Linked DNA regions of Homo sapiens. The protein of the gene in region 1 interacts with the protein of each later gene in a pairwise test. Each region holds a gene or a part of one and is shown in the gene's direction. Other genes may lie near its edges.

Region 1 (5,108 bases):
CCCATCTTCTAAGCCCCTGTTGGCAGGGAGTGCCCCTTGCTGGTTTGGTAACCCCATAGGACTCCTCAGCGGGTGGCAGGATGTTCCCCCAGGTGGTGGATGAGGGTTTGCTCACTGCTGGTCCCTGCTGTGTGGAGTGTGCAGATGGTTGAGGCTTTTGTGCGTGGCTGGGAAGAAACAATGAGCCCCTGGGCAGCCAGCAAAAATGACACTGCAGGACTAATGCAGGCTCCGATTTCGGCTGGAAGGAGGAGGACCTCAGTGAGTGGACAGAATGCCCACAGGCACGTTATGACTCAACACTGAGTAGCAGAGGGTTTCTTCAGCGCCTCTTGCTGGCTCCCTGTCAGGGCCATCTCACGGCAGGAATTCAGCTCTGAATGTGAGGCCTGGACCTGCTCCTGCTCTTGGGTGACCTGAGAGTTAAGCAGGCTAATGTAATGCCGCCGCCCTGAGCACGTGGCTGTTCTAATCTGAGAATGCCTGTCTGCCCATGTCCCCAAGGACACAGTGACACCCATGCCTTTCCTGTGTGCTGGAGGCCCTCCAAGGGCAGGGTCTCAGCAGGAGGGAGGCAGTTGATGGGCCTGAAAGGGCTAAACCAGGGTCAGCCACCTGGTGCCCACGCCTGCACACAAATAGAAACATCACAGAATTAATGGTCTGTTCTCTCAAAGTGCAGAGCAGCCCTCAGTATCTGTCCTTACTTTTGATTGATTCCGCAGCAGTAGAGATTGTCCCCTGCAAGCTCATAGATTGTTAGCCTTTGGCGTTTGTTCGCCGTGCAGACAGCTGCCTTCGTCAGGAAAGATCACTCCCCTTCTTAAGAGTTGCCTTACACAGATATATGCAAATGACACTTATCAGTAGCTCCCCTCCTGGGAAAGGACCCTCGGTGCTCGGGGACTGTTAGGACTTCTGTTGCGCAGCCCAGCTTGCTGAGAGATGGCATTGCCCAGTGAGTGACTGGCCAGCCTTGTTGTCTGAAATAAGATCTTTCCTGTGGTACATCTGGAACTTGGCCTTCTCAAGGGTCCCAAAATAGCCAGGCCACTGAAGGGAGAACTTCAAGAGAGGACATAAGAGAAGGACCCCAACTGCTCCTTGCCCAAGCAGGCTCTGTTGCGTTGAAGAAAAAGTTCTTCAGTGATACTTGTTAAAGCACAGTCAGGAAGATTTATTCGGGGCCATCAAGATAGGCACAGGGACCACGGCAGTGGGGTCGTGCAGTCATGGGTAGAGACTGGGCACAACTTCAAATACAACACGGGCGATTGGGAATTTATAGTCAAGGAGCAGTGTGGATGGAAAATTAGAAGAGGAAACATCAGGGCTAAGGGTGTTTCTGGCTATGCTGACCAAACAGGATTCTTGCCGAAGACAGGCCAGGGTGATTAGACAGCACCTGGAGGCTGTGGAAGCTGATCAGATAGTGAGGCTGGGGAGGGGGTTTCTGGCTAAACTGACTTAGCAGTGTCTTTTGCTAAAACTTGACTTTACAAGGAAGTGCACAGATGGGCCTAGGAGATGCTTCGGAAGCCTAAGATTTGGTCAAGCAGAGAATCTTTGTCAGTTGGCATCGTTAGGCGACACAGTTAACCCTGGGTGCCCCTCTCTCCCTATGCTGCCTCTGCATCCCTGTCCTTCCCCTTCCTGCAAATTGTTCTAACAATACTCCTGAGGAGGCAGCCCTCGCTCCCCAGCCCACTTCTCTGTAAAGATTCCCAAACTGTGTCCTGTGTTTGGGCCCAGTACAAGCTCTATATTGCTGGGAAATGTGAGGGCCTTTTTGGAAACAGAGACGCTTGCTGTAATGTAGAGGTTGGAGCTGACCCCTGCTCCTGGAGCTCATCTTCTGATCCGGGTCTCTGAAAATGCGGGCATGGGCAGCTCTCCTACACTCACCGCTTCCCTCAGTCACCCAGAAAAGAAACCTGTCTTACCAGTTTGGAGAATTGGGACCTTTCCTTTGCTTAACAGATACTTTTGGCTTTCTCCTGATGCCCCTAATTCCTAAACTGTTGGCCAAATAGCAACCTCTATGGGGTGGGGGGTTTGGAGGGTACAGGGGCTGGGAGCTGGCTGACGCTTTGAGGCCCAAGTCACTCGGGAAGATCACAATGCCAAGCGCCACAGTGTTTCCTCTGCCAGGAGGGTTCACTTCCCAGTTTCTAACCAGCCTGTGTTTCTCCACTTTTTATTTCAGGAGACTCCATCCTCTGCCAATGGCCCTTCCCGGGAGGGCTCTAGGCTGCCGCCTGCTAGGGAAGGCCACCCTGTGTACCCCCAGCTCCGACCAGGCTACATTCCCATTCCTGTGCTCCATGAAGGCGCTGAGAACCGGCAGGTGCACCCTTTCCATGTCTATCCCCAGCCTGGGATGCAGCGATTCCGAACTGAGGCGGCAGCAGCGGCTCCTCAGAGGTCCCAGTCACCTCTGCGGGGCATGCCAGAAACCACTCAGCCAGATAAACAGTGTGGACAGGTGGCAGCGGCGGCGGCAGCCCAGCCCCCAGCCTCCCACGGACCTGAGGTAAGGAGAGGCCAGGCTCACCAGCCTGCTGGGGAGCAAGCCGCTGTGCTTCCCAGGCCGGGCCCATCCCCTCAGGACAGTGCCCTGGGCCAGGCACCTGTTCACATGCAGGGCATCTGGGTCTAGCCTGCAGCATCAGAGGTCACCCAGCAAAGACAGGGTGATGGCCCCACATCATCCCCCAGCATCTCATAGGGCTGTTCTTCAGTGGGGCAGGGCAGGAATCATGTGGCTTCTTTTTGTAGCTAAGGAACGGCTCGGAAGGGCACACTGCAGCCTGCCTGCTCCAGATGCACACAGGTGGAGGGAGCAGAGCTGGGACCGGAAGCCTGGCCTGCCTTCTGGCGCCTAATTTCCATGCTCCTTATTCACACTGGGCTTTCTATTCAGAAGCACAGAGATAGCTGTGCATTATTTTGTTCAGTTCAATGCTTATGGATAAATCTTAACCGCTTGTGGAGCTATGTTGACAGGAAAATGAGACCCCATGCCTGCCCTCACCGTGCACCACAGTTTCAAAAGAAATAAGGAGTCAGGAAGGCAGCTGCTTTAAGACAGCATTTTAATCCTGAAGCCAAACATCTCAGGGATATGTCAATGGATTCTGTGCATTAATAGCTAAAAAATAGTTCTTAATCTGGTTCTTAGCTGAGATTTGAGGCATTCCTAGTAGGATTCCTAAGCAGTAAGTCCTCTCATTTTCCTGTCTGCACATCATCCTGTGGTGTGTGCCAGCGTTGTTCCTGGGCACAAACTCCCGTGTCCTATCTGCACCCTGAGTCATGCTTGCCTCTCAGCTCCGTCTGAATCTGTTCAGCTTCACACCTGCTTGAGAGTGAAAGTTACAGTTAATGTGGGATACCTTTTTTCTTTTCTTAGAGAGGTAGTACCTGGCTGAGGCAGGTGGATCACTTGAGGCCAGGAATTCAAGACCAGCCTGGCTAACACGGTGAAACCCCGTCTCTACAAAAAATACAAAAATTAGCCGGGCATGGTGGCACATTCCTGTAATCCCAGCTACTCAGGAGGCTGAGGCAGGAGAATTGCTTAAACCCAGGAGGCAGAGGTTGCAGTGAGCCGAGATCGCACCACTGCACTCCAGCCTAGGTGATAGAGCGAGACTGTCTCAAAAATAAAAAAATAAGTAATGCCTATATTTATAATGGTTTTGCTGCAAGAAATCAAAGTGACACATAAATGCGAGACATCTTCACAAATTTAGGCTAACAAAGCACTTAGAAGAGGAAATGCTCTCAATTTCGAGGTGAATAGAAGGTGGCCCAGCAGGGAAAGGTGCTTGACCTGCCTTGGGCCACACGGGATGCTGGCAGCTCCCAGTTGCTCAGCCGAGTTCTCTGTAGATTGGCAGAGAAAGGGTAGTGGGGACAACACATCCCTTGTATGAGCGCTTCCTGTGTGCTGGCCTGGGGCTGAGGCACATGCCCAGGTGACTGACCTCATCTTCAGAGCAGCCCAGTGAGGGAGGGGCACTCTTCCTATATTTCAAATGAAGCTTAGAAAATGATTGAATTACTAGGAATTTGAACATAGGCCCCTTGATTCCAAAGCCTTCAGTCTTTGTTGTGTGTGTGTGTGTTTTGTTTTGTTTTGTTTTGTTTTGCTTTGTTTGAGGTGGAGTCTCTCTCTGTTGCCCAGACTGGAGTGCAGTGGTGTGATCTCAAATCACTGCAACCTCTGCCTCCTAGGTTCAAGCAATTCCCCTGCCTCAGCCTCCTGAGTAGCTGGCACTACAGGCATGCGCCGCCACACCCAGCTAATTTTTGTATTTTTGGTAGAGATGGGGTTTCACCATGTTGGCCAGGCTGCTCTTGAACTCCTGACCTCAGGTGGTCCACTCACCTAGGCCTCCCAAAGTGCTGGGATTACAGGTGTGAGCCACCGCGCCCAGCCCCAGAGCTCTCAGTCTTAACCGCACATTTTGAAAATTGAAAATTACAGATAGGAGGTCTTACAATATGGATTGCCCTGAGGAGGTGCACAGCAGAAGGCGTGGTCAGGATGCCAAGCCAGGGGAGTCATTTGTGGGGTCATGCCCTCTACCCTGTGTCTCTTGCAGCGGTCCCAGTCTCCAGCTGCCTCTGACTGCTCATCCTCATCCTCCTCGGCCAGCCTGCCTTCCTCCGGCAGGAGCAGCCTGGGCAGTCACCAGCTCCCGCGGGGGTACATCTCCATTCCGGTGATACACGAGCAGAACGTTACCCGGCCAGCAGCCCAGCCCTCCTTCCACCAAGCCCAGAAGACGCACTACCCAGCGCAGCAGGGGGAGTACCAGACCCACCAGCCTGTGTACCACAAGATCCAGGGGGATGACTGGGAGCCCCGGCCCCTGCGGGCGGCATCCCCGTTCAGGTCATCTGTCCAGGGTGCATCGAGCCGGGAGGGCTCACCAGCCAGGAGCAGCACGCCACTCCACTCCCCCTCGCCCATCCGTGTGCACACCGTGGTCGACAGGCCTCAGGTACGGGAAGTTAGTCGTCAGCAGACTGGTTATGGTGGTATGTCTCCAGGGGTGCAGGAGCTCTGTGGGTGCCCTGGGTTCCCCCTTCATCCCTGC
Region 2 (3,503 bases), on another chromosome or scaffold:
CCTGTGCCTTCTCCTGGGCTGAGCCCTGAGCTGGAAAGGGACAGAGCCAGTCCTTTCTGGGGGTCGGCACCCAGGCTGGGGCCGCTCCAGGCCCCGTGCAGTTCCTCAGCTCTGCCTGGGTTGCCTTACAGTGAGACGGAGCTGCCTCCTCTGACTGCGCGGGAGGCGAAGGTAAGAGCCTGATGCGTGGAGGGGCTGGTCCAGGGACGTAGGGACTGGGCGGGTGGTCAGTGAGGCAGAGGAAGCAGCTGGCCTGAGCGGTGGCGGGTGAGGGCAACACGCTGTCACTGGGAGGGGCAGCAGTCCCTGCTGGACCTGACCCCAGGTTGCTGTTCACTTTGGCAGTTTGATAAAATTCCAAAAGGAGAACCACAGTCCTGGCTTGGGGGTGGCTGCGCGCTTGTGTCAGGACCCCACCTAGAGGCTGGGACCTAAGACTGGTGTGTCTGTGGCCTGAGGATGGTACATCCCGGGGTCCCAAAGCCAGCCCACTGGTGCTCATTTGCTCAAAGGCTCTCAGCCCTTGAGGTCTGCCCTTCCCTGGCTCCTTCCAGCTGGCTCCCACCAGGGCTCCAGAGCCCAAGACCCAGCATCTGCGGGCGGCTCTGGGAAGCCTGGCAGCTCCGCTAACTCCAACATGCCTCATTTGACAGCAAATTCGGCGGGAGATCAGCCGAAAGAGCAAGTGGGTGGATATGCTGGGAGACTGGGAGAAATACAAAAGCAGCAGAAAGGTAACGTGTGGAGGGAGGAAGCACTCTCTGCAGAGACAGGGGACAGGCACCCATGGCTGTGGCCTGGCACCATCAGCCTCTCAGAGGGTGGGCGGCACACTGTCCTCGCCCAGAGGACTGCAGGCCTGGTCGCCAGATTTCCTGCCTATTCGTGCAAGCGTCACCTTGCAGGGAGGGAATCTGAATCTAGGGCTGGGACTACCCGGAGCTCAAGGCTAGGGATGCCCTGGGGACCTGAAGGAAGGAAAAGGTTCAGATCAGAGTTTCGACTCTGAGTGTCCATCCACTCTTTCAGTCCTGGGAAGGGAGACCCTGTCCCAGCTTGATCTCACCTCTACTGAGGAATCATGGGGCCAAAACCGACAATTTCCAGAATCCCCGGGCTCTGGTCCTCACTGGGGTCACCCCGTGGCCTGTGACACCAGATCGTTTTCTGCCCACAGCTCATAGATCGAGCGTACAAGGGAATGCCCATGAACATCCGGGGCCCGATGTGGTCAGTCCTCCTGAACATTGAGGAAATGAAGTTGAAAAACCCCGGAAGATACCAGGTACGCTCAGCCAGAGCACAACAAACAGGACAGGCCGTGTCGGGGCCCAGGTCTCCAGCTGGAGGGAACGTCAAGACCACCCTGGGGAGCTGGGGGTGAAGGTCAGATGAACACCCTGGGCACAGATGGTGACACAGTCACCACAGACAAACTCAGCTCTGGTGACCCTCCCTGGCTTCAGTAACAAGCCAAAATGCAGCTTTCTGCAGAAGGAAACCTTCCTTCTGTCCTTCCTTCCCGAAGTGCTGACTGTGGGCTGACTGCCACTGGGGGCAGGGAGTCTTCCATCTGTTCTGAGACTGCTTCCTCCTCTTGGCCCTGCCCTACAGATCATGAAGGAGAAGGGCAAGAGGTCATCTGAGCACATCCAGCGCATCGACCGGGACATAAGCGGGACATTAAGGAAGCATATGTTCTTCAGGGATCGATACGGAACCAAGTAAGCCTACGGGAGCCACAGGGTCCCAGCAGAGATGGGGTGAATGAGAGGGATGGGGGCTTCCCCGGAGCAGAAGCCAGGGTCACCCAGGAGGGATGACACAGCTGCCAAGAGCTCTCCCGGCCCAGGGAGCAGCCGGCACCATGAACCGAGCACCTCCCTGGTTCCAAGCCCTGGGCCAGACTGGAACATGTGGGGCCAGAACCCAGGAGGATCCTGAGGAGATGGAAGGCAGCAAACAAAATCATGCACAATGGTGAAGGGTGCTCTCCCTGACCCATGGGGACCCATGGTAGGACCCACGGGAGGGTGGCAGGATAGAGGGCCCATGAGCCCCCCCCAGGCAACAGTGACAGCACCAAATGCTGGGAGAATTAGGGGTCCTGGAAACTCTCATCCAGGTCCGCTGGGAACATGACATGGCACAGCCACGTTGGCAGCCAGTTGGGCAGTGGCTCACAAAGCTCGATGGACTTGAACCACACATCCCCAAAGTGTCACAGATATTGAACCCACTGATTTGCAAACTGACATCCACATGAAACCAGCATGCCAGGTTCACTGCTTGACTCCTCGTCACTCACACACGGAGCCTTCGGGGACGGCCTTCAACACGGGGATGGGGAGAGCAAGGCTGGTCCTCCCTTCAAACGGAAGACCCAGTGAGAAAAGGGAACGAGCCGGTGATGCCCGCACGAACGTGGGTGGATCCTAGATGCATTTTGCTGAGGGACAGAAGCCAGACCCAATAAGCTACCACAGTAGGATTCCCATTCCTAGGCCATTCTGGAAAAGGCCAAACCACAGGGACTGAGAAGCAGTCTGGGTGGCCAGGGGCTGACGGATCGGGGAGAGGCTGGTTGCATAGGGGCCACCCTGGAGACTTGGAGGATGAAGGAGTCGCCCCAGGAGGGGCTGGAGCGGTGGCCGGGAGACTCTGCACATCGGTTTGGAACCGTGGAGGAACTGTACACCCACAGACTGAACTGGCGTGTGTGCAAACTGAAAAAAAAAATCATTCAGAGTGAAAAGGATCAGGCAAGTCACTGTACAACTGGGCTATTTGCATGTCACAGATGTGGATTTTACTGAAACATTTCTTCAAGAGTCTCAGGCCCTGAAGAGCTCACTGCTTATCTGGTGAAACATCTGAACCTGAAATGGGATTTGCTGTTAGGCTTTGTAGACAAAGTGAAATTAACAACATCTGCACAAAACAAACCAAAGCCCCCTTTCTCTGTTTCCTAGGCAGCGGGAACTACTCCACATCCTCCTGGCATATGAGGAGTATAACCCGGTGAGTATTCCCGGCAGTGAGGTTCCCGGGCCATATTTCCATATTGACAGGAGTGGGTGTCTGGTGGGGGTGTCGTTGCTTCTTTTAAAGTTAGTATTTGTGACCCACCAGGATATAGGAGGTAGGATGTCAGCTCACCGCTGGCATAAACCTCCAAGGAAGGGGGTGGTCTCAAGGGGTCAAGCTGAGACACAAAGGAGTCAGGGCCCGGACTCCTGGTGTCACCTGGGCCTGACCACCACTTCTCAGAACAAGAAATGACGCCCTCCTCCTGGGGCTGCCCCAAAGCCCAGGAGCTTGGCAGCATCGCACACAGGATGGTGCTATCAGCAGACATTTTGGACAAGGTGCTGAAGTGCCTGATGGACTTGGCTCTTGTCATGAAATGAATGTGCATCCTGAGGAAGCCTCTTTTTCAGAGGAAGCCTCTCCTTCAGAGGAAGCCTCTCCAGTCACCTCTGCCCTCTCCAATGACATGAGTC
Region 3 (3,503 bases), on another chromosome or scaffold:
GCAGGGCCTGATTGAGGACTGCCAGCTGGCGCTGCAGGTGAGGGCCTTCGGAGTCCCCATGCCTATGTTCCTGGGAGAGCTGCCCAAGCAGGTATTAGAGCAGAAAAAAGGAGATATGGGGTATGGCTTGGAGAGCCTGGCTTTGGCTGGCCATAACCCCAGAGAATTTGAGGTGCCATCTTCTGCATCCCTGCCGCCTCAGGCAGCACCCCCACCCCAGCCTCATGCCAGGACCTTTGCAATGGTTAAATAGCTGCTCTCTACTTCCCACTGTTCCTATGCAGCCAGTCCAGCTGTTACACTCGCACCTGAGTAATTATCTTTCAGCACAACCCCGATCTATTCTCTCTCTTGCTTAGAAATCCTAAATAGCTCCCTCATGTCACTAGGGAAAAACATCTAAATTTAAATTGAAATATAATAACCTCTGCGATCTGGCCCTATCCTGGGAGGCAGCATTCTCCCATGGCTTCCGCCCCCCAGGAGCTTTCTAATTCTTTTTTTTTTTTAAACAGTGAAATTCTTTATTCAAATGAAATCTCACAGAAGCAGGGCCACTCCCAGTAAAACAGGGTTGGGGATTCTAGAGACCCCACCTGCTAGGCTCCACTTTTGTGGACCCCTTAGGGTTCTGAGGAGCAGAGCTTGGAAAGTGAAGCCAGGACATAAGGGTTCTGTGTCACCTCTGTCACAGCTGACTCAGTGACCTTCAGTGAGTCCATTCCTACCTCTGGGATTCTGTCCTCGGGTTCCGAAAGACAGGGAAGGGAGAAAAATAAGTACAAAGTAGTGAGTTTTACATAAAGCCTGTTATTCTGTTCTATTTTTACAATGTTAAAAATGTCCTTTCTTTTATGTTACAATAGTAAGAGAAGATTATAAAAGTTTCTTTTTGAATGCCCTTTATAGATTAAAAGGTTGCCTCCCTGAACAACTTTTGTCTCAGGGAATACTTACTGGTTCTTGAAGCCCAAAGGTGTAGAACTCCTTTGGACAATATCCATGTTTTTCAAACTTTTTGATTGCCTGCCATAGGGAAAAAATGCATTTTAGTACTCATTATATATAACTGAAATAACAGTTCTATAAAAAGATACTTTTAGTGAAATGTACTCTGATAATCTTTCTTTTTAATGCTGTTTGGGACCCATTACTTATTTCATGACCCATTAATAAATTACCACTTGCATTTGAGAAACATTCATTGTACTAGATCTTGGAAGTGCATTCCTGCTCTGTAGCATTTTTGTTTTGTTTTGAGACAGAGTCTCTCTGTCGCCCAGGCTGGAGTGCAATGGCGTGATCTTGGCTCACCGCAACCTCTGCCTCCCAGGTTCAAGCAATTCTCCTGCCTCAGCCTCCCAAGTAGCTAGAATTACAGGCGCCTGCTACCACGCTTTGCTACTTTTTTGTATTTTTAGTAGAGACGGGGTTTCACCATGTTTGTTAGGCTGGTGTCGAACTCCTGACCTCACGTGATCCATCCGCCTTGGCCCCCCAAAGTGCTGGGATTACAGGCGTGAGCCACCGGCCTGTAGTTTTAAATTTACTAATGTTAAAACTAAAGTTTTAAAACCCGGCCTGTAGTTTTAAATTTACTAATGTCATCATGTACCCACTGTGTGTCAGGAGCAATTCTGCTATCTGCTTGTGTATACATCTTGTATCCTTGTTTGACGTAAAAAGAAACGCGAGGGAGCTTGGAAGACGTGTCCAAGGTGAAAGAGCTGGGAAGCAGCAGAGCTCAGATTTGACCCCAGGCTACCTGACTATCTGACCTTCAGCCTCCCAAGAGCTGTACTTTTCTATACTCCTGCTCTCTCCTTTCCAGGTTCCCTCTGCACCTCACGCAGCTCAGCACACTCCTCAGTGTGTGGCACTTCATCAATATTGGTCTATGCAAACCTTTTGTCTTTTAGTTTTATTTCTTTCCCTTCATTCCCAGTCCCCTGCCTACTTTCCTTTTTCCCAGGGGCACCCATCCAATTTTAATGTTTTGATACATATGCTCGAAAAGCTAAAGCATTGTTCTGCATATGTGTGCATTTTAAATGTCCATAAATGGCATTGAAGCTGTGAATCAGTTTCTGTTGCATTGTGTTTTTTTAATTCAGCACTTTTTTTCAAGATCTATTCATGCTGCTCCAAGTACATCTAGTTCTTTGCTTCTAACAGCTGCAGAGAAATCTGCGGTGTTCATTCACCATATTTTGTTCATACATTCCCCTGAGGTTGGAGACCTAGATTGCCTTCCAGTTCCTGCCCCTACAAACCGTGTCACCATGAGCATCCTGGTACATGCTCCCTTCTGATTCTGTGCCAGTCTCCTGTCATTGTAGCTGGGAGTAGAATTGCTGGATAACAGGACACCTGCAAACGGCGTTTTAGTAAATATCATCTAATTGCTCTCCCGAATGGTTATAATACTTTATCCTCATAATGAGCAGTGCATAAGAGATTACATTTCTGCATGTCCTCATCAAGACATGGCATCATCCAGCTTTCTAATTTTGCCAATCCAATGAGTGTAGCGTGATCTCATTTTCATTTGCATGCCTCTGATTACTAATGAGGTTCAGCATCTTTTCATATACTCACTAGTGTTTTTTTGTTTCCCTTCCTGTGAATTGCTTATTCATGTTCTTTACCAGATTTTCTGCTTTTTTCTTTTTCATGTTGCTTAGCAGGAGATCCTTGCATATTTTAGTTTAGTTCCTAGGGATAATTAAGCCCTACTGCATATGGGTATGTCTTATACATTCCCTAGGGCATGGATTATATACATAACAAATTAACCTCTAAGCCTGTAGCATGGGACTATTTACCTACTGTTCTCAGCAAAGTTCAGAAAACACTCAAATTATTTGCTGTTTTTTTGTTTTTGTTTTTGTTTTTCTTTTTTTGAGGTGGAGTCTTGCTCTGTCGCCCAGGGTGGAGTGCAGTGGCGCGATCTTACCTCACTGCAACCTCCCTCTCTGGGGTTCAAGTGATTCTCCTGCCTCAGCTTTCCGGGTAGCTGGGACTACATGTGTGCACTACAATGCCTGGCTAATTTTATCATATTTTTGGTAGAGATGGAGTTTCGCCATGTTGGCCAGGCTGGTCTCGAACTCCTGACCTCAAGTGATCCACCTGCCTTGGCCTCCCAAAGTGCTGGGATTCAGGCGTGAGCCACCGTGCCTGGCCATATTTGCTGGTTTTTGAGATTCAGATGAGGAACTTCAGTTGAAAAAGTCTGTTCTAGATAAAAATTTCTAGTCAATGTAGATATCGCCAATATTTTTTCTTAGAATGTCACCCACTTGTGGCATCTAGCATTGAATGGAAATCCTTGATTTTTTAAAATTACAAATAACCATTGATTATTTTAAAGCAGTATTTATTAATTGTAGAAATTTCAGAAACACAAATAATCTAAAAAATAAAAGCACCAAATATTCTTCCAGGTCGTTTCCTGTGTGAGAGTATGTGTGTGTGTGTGTGTTTGCTTGCCAAAATACAAT
Region 4 (3,503 bases), on another chromosome or scaffold:
AATCACTTGAACACGGGAGGTGGAGGTTGCAGTGTGCCAAGATCATGCCACTGCACTCCAGCCTGAGCAAGTGTGAGACTCTGTTTCAAAAAAAAAAAATCTTCTTGCCTTTACCCAGTGCTGTCTGCTTTTCTGGAGCCCCAAACCACCCCCTTTGCCCCATCCTTCCCTCCTGTCTTTCCCCCACCCCCTTGCCCCATCCTTTCCCCATCTGCTCCCTTCCTCATATTTGGCCCTGTCCTTAGGTGTCCTGTCAGAAGAACAGATCCGCCTGAAGAAACTGAAGCGGCAAGAGGAGGAACAGGCTCATGCCACATCCTTGCCCCCCAGGGCTTCCTCACCCCCCCAAATCCTGCCCCAGCTCAGCCCGGAACAACTGGGCATGATCGAGAAGCTCGTCGCTGCCCAGCAACAGTGTAACCGGCGCTCCTTTTCTGACCGGCTTCGAGTCACGGTACTTGACACACCTGGGGAGAGGCGGCTGCGCCCAGATCACCAGTGGGCTTCTTGATGTCCGACTCAAAGCGCTTTGCCTTTTCCCTCCTGGGTAGCCTTGGCCCATGGCACCAGATCCCCATAGCCGGGAGGCCCGTCAGCAGCGCTTTGCCCACTTCACTGAGCTGGCCATCGTCTCTGTGCAGGAGATAGTTGACTTTGCTAAACAGCTACCCGGCTTCCTGCAGCTCAGCCGGGAGGACCAGATTGCCCTGCTGAAGACCTCTGCGATCGAGGTGGCTGGAGAAGGGCAAGGGATGAAGGGAGAAGCAGAGTGGGATTATCTGTGGGAGGGGCCTCCAGACATCGAGCTGGGAGAGCCAAATCTGCTGGGAAGCAGGGATGAGGAGAATCGGCCTCCCTGGAAGAGGCCATGCTCCAAGACCAGCCCTCCTAGTCCCCGTTTGAGGTTTGCTGCTTGTGTGCAGGTGATGCTTCTGGAGACATCTCGGAGGTACAACCCTGGGAGTGAGAGTATCACCTTCCTCAAGGATTTCAGTTATAACCGGGAAGACTTTGCCAAAGCAGGTGAGAACTGAGATCACACAGGGATTGGGGTTGGGTGGACAGATGCTTCTTTTTTTATTTTTTATTTTTAAAAATTGAGGGCCAGGCGCGGTGGCTCATGCCTGTAATCCCAGCACTTTGGGAGGCCGAGGTGGGCAGATCACCAGGTCAGTAGATCAAGACCATTCTGGCTAACACGGTGAAACCCTGTCTCTACTGAAAATACAAAAAATTAGTCAGGCATGGTGGCACGCGCCTGTAGCCCCAGCTACTTGGGAGATCGAGGCAGGAGAATCACTTGAATCTGGGAGGCAGAGGTTGTAGTGAGCCAAGATCGCACCACTGCACTCCAGCCTGGGCAACAACAACAACAACAACAAAAATTGAGATAGAGTCTTACTATGTTGCCCAGGTTGGTCCCAAACTCCTGGCCTCAAGTGATCCTCCTGCCTCTGACTCCCAAAGTGCTGGGATTACAGGCGTGAGCCACCCACCATGCCCGGCCAAGTACTTTTTTTTTGTTTCATTTTTTTTTTTAGACAGAGTTTGCTCTGTCACCCAAGCAGGAGTGCAGTGGCGTGATCTTGGCTCACTACAACCTCCGCCTCCCGGGTTCAAGCAATTCTCCTGCTTCAGCTTCTCAAGTAGCTGGGATTAGGTGCACCACCATGCCCAGCTAATTTTTGTACTTTTAGTAGAGACAGGGTTTTACCATGTTGACCAGGCTGGTCTTGAACTCCTGACCTTAAGTGATCCATGTGCCTCAGCCTCCCAAAATGCTGGGATTACAGGCATGAGCCACTGAACCTGGCCAGGACTGGTGCTTTTTGTCAGAGGCCCATAGTGACTACAGAGCCACAGGCCCAATGTTTGGGTGGCTGGTAAGGGAAGGCTCCCTTGTTTTTTGAAGATAGAAAATTGGAATGCTGATAGGCTTCTCTCAGCTGCTCCAGATAGACCCCTGTCCTCTGTTGCTTTAGGTCAGTGGTTTTCAAACTGTATTCCAAGGAACCTGAGAGATATATGGAATGGCACCTTGGAGGAGAAACAGGGAGGCACAGGAATGTCCTTCATCTTTACTTTAGCCAAACAAGAAGCTCCATTTAAATCTGCATTATATATTGCACTGCTACATAGTATTTTGCTTGCAGATTTTACAGCTTGAAAAAAAAGTTTGAAACTCAGTGCACTCAACTTTTTAGTAGTCAAAAAGTGAACAAATCTTCCTCACATGTGCTCTTTGGGGATCATGGGGGCTGATTTCCCCTACTTTTTTTTTTTTTTTGAGATAAGTTCTTGCTCTGTCACGCAGGCTGAAGTGCAGTGGCATGAACGTGGCTCACTGCAGCCTCAACCACCTGGGCTCCAGTAATCCTCCTGCCTCAGCCCCCAAGTAGGTGGGACTACAGGCATGCACCACCATGCCAGGCTAATTTTTATATTTTTTTGTAGAGAGTGGGTTTCGCCATGTTGCCCAGGCTGGTCTCAAAATGGTCTCGAACTCCTGAGCTCAAGTGATCCACCCACCTCGGCCTCCCAATGTGCTGGGATTACAGGCATGAGCCACCACACACAGCCTCCCCTACTCTTTTTCTTTTTTTTTCTTTTCTTTTTTTTTTTTTTTGAGATGGATTCTCACTCTGTTGCCAGGCTGGAGTGCAGTGACGCGATCTTGGCTCACTGCAACTTCTGCCTCCCGGATTCAAACGATTCCCCTGCCTCAGCCTCCTGAGTAGCTGGGACTACAGGCGCGCGCCACTACGCTCAGCTAACTTTTGTATTTTTAGTAGAGATGGGGTTTCACTGTTTTGCCCAGGCTGGTCTTGAACTCCTGAGCTCAGGCAATCCGCCCGCCTTGGCCTCCCAAAGTCCTGGGATTACAGCCATGAGCCACTTGTCCAGGCCCCTCCCCTACTCTTTTTCAATTGCACTTTCTGACGAACCAGAACCATGGCATGGCAAACATGCCCAGAGAGGATGTACAATAAGAGCGAATGCTTCCATCTCCATCCTATATCTGAAGTATTTTCTCCAAAAATTAGTTCATTCTGCGGCTCTCTATCTGATGCTCGCTTGGGAGCTACGCAGAAGGGGTTTCTTCATATTCAACTATTGATAATGTTTGTATCATGAGAACTGGCCTGGGAAAGGACGGGAGGCTGAGGGAGTTTTGGAGGGACTGGAATTGAGCTTCAGCAGGAAACCAAGTAGCTTAACGACTGGATGAGTGGGGCTGTAAAATATGGCTGATGCCCTGACTCCACTCTCAGGGCTGGTAGATCTGTGGCCAGGCCAGTCATCAAGCCTTCCTTGGTTTCTGATAACTCAGGCCAGCTCACGTGCCTCTTGCTCTCCCAACGCAGTCCACCCAGTGAGCTTTCTAGGAAGGCCACTCTTCGCTGTAGGGCATAACAGGGCTATGTTGGCACCTTTTGCCTTCTATAGTAACCGGTGTGCTGCCTGGATGTATTGACACCTAATGGGGTGATTTAATGACTTTA

The links.
Region 2: the proteins of BAG3 (region 1) and TBC1D3G interact in binary tests that used the Homo sapiens proteins (3 or more experiments, as listed by UniProt).
Region 3: the proteins of BAG3 (region 1) and KCTD13 interact in binary tests that used the Homo sapiens proteins (3 or more experiments, as listed by UniProt).
Region 4: the proteins of BAG3 (region 1) and NR1H3 interact in binary tests that used the Homo sapiens proteins (3 or more experiments, as listed by UniProt).

Annotation. Positions count from the first base shown.
Region 1 is NC_000010.11:119,667,645-119,672,752, forward strand, and holds part of BAG3 (BAG family molecular chaperone regulator 3), read left to right. Parts: intron 1-2,206; coding exon 2,207-2,533; intron 2,534-4,610; coding exon 4,611-5,012; intron 5,013-5,108. UniProt on the Homo sapiens protein: Co-chaperone and adapter protein that connects different classes of molecular chaperones including heat shock proteins 70 (HSP70s), e.g. HSPA1A/HSP70 or HSPA8/HSC70, and small heat shock proteins (sHSPs), e.g. HSPB8.
Region 2 is NC_000017.11:36,326,884-36,330,386, forward strand, and holds part of TBC1D3G (TBC1 domain family member 3G), read left to right. Parts: coding exon of another isoform or gene 1-131; coding exon 132-171; intron 172-653; coding exon 654-734; intron 735-1,177; coding exon 1,178-1,285; intron 1,286-1,614; coding exon 1,615-1,724; intron 1,725-2,972; coding exon 2,973-3,021; intron 3,022-3,503. UniProt on the Homo sapiens protein: Acts as a GTPase activating protein for RAB5. Does not act on RAB4 or RAB11.
Region 3 is NC_000016.10:29,919,724-29,923,226, reverse strand, and holds part of KCTD13 (BTB/POZ domain-containing adapter for CUL3-mediated RhoA degradation protein 1), read left to right. Parts: coding exon 1-37; coding exon of another isoform or gene 38-91; intron 92-1,265; coding exon of another isoform or gene 1,266-1,373; exon of another isoform or gene 1,374-3,503. UniProt on the Homo sapiens protein: Substrate-specific adapter of a BCR (BTB-CUL3-RBX1) E3 ubiquitin-protein ligase complex required for synaptic transmission.
Region 4 is NC_000011.10:47,260,996-47,264,498, forward strand, and holds part of NR1H3 (oxysterols receptor LXR-alpha), read left to right. Parts: intron 1-245; coding exon 246-454; intron 455-551; coding exon 552-731; intron 732-923; coding exon 924-1,023; intron 1,024-3,503. UniProt on the Homo sapiens protein: Nuclear receptor that exhibits a ligand-dependent transcriptional activation activity.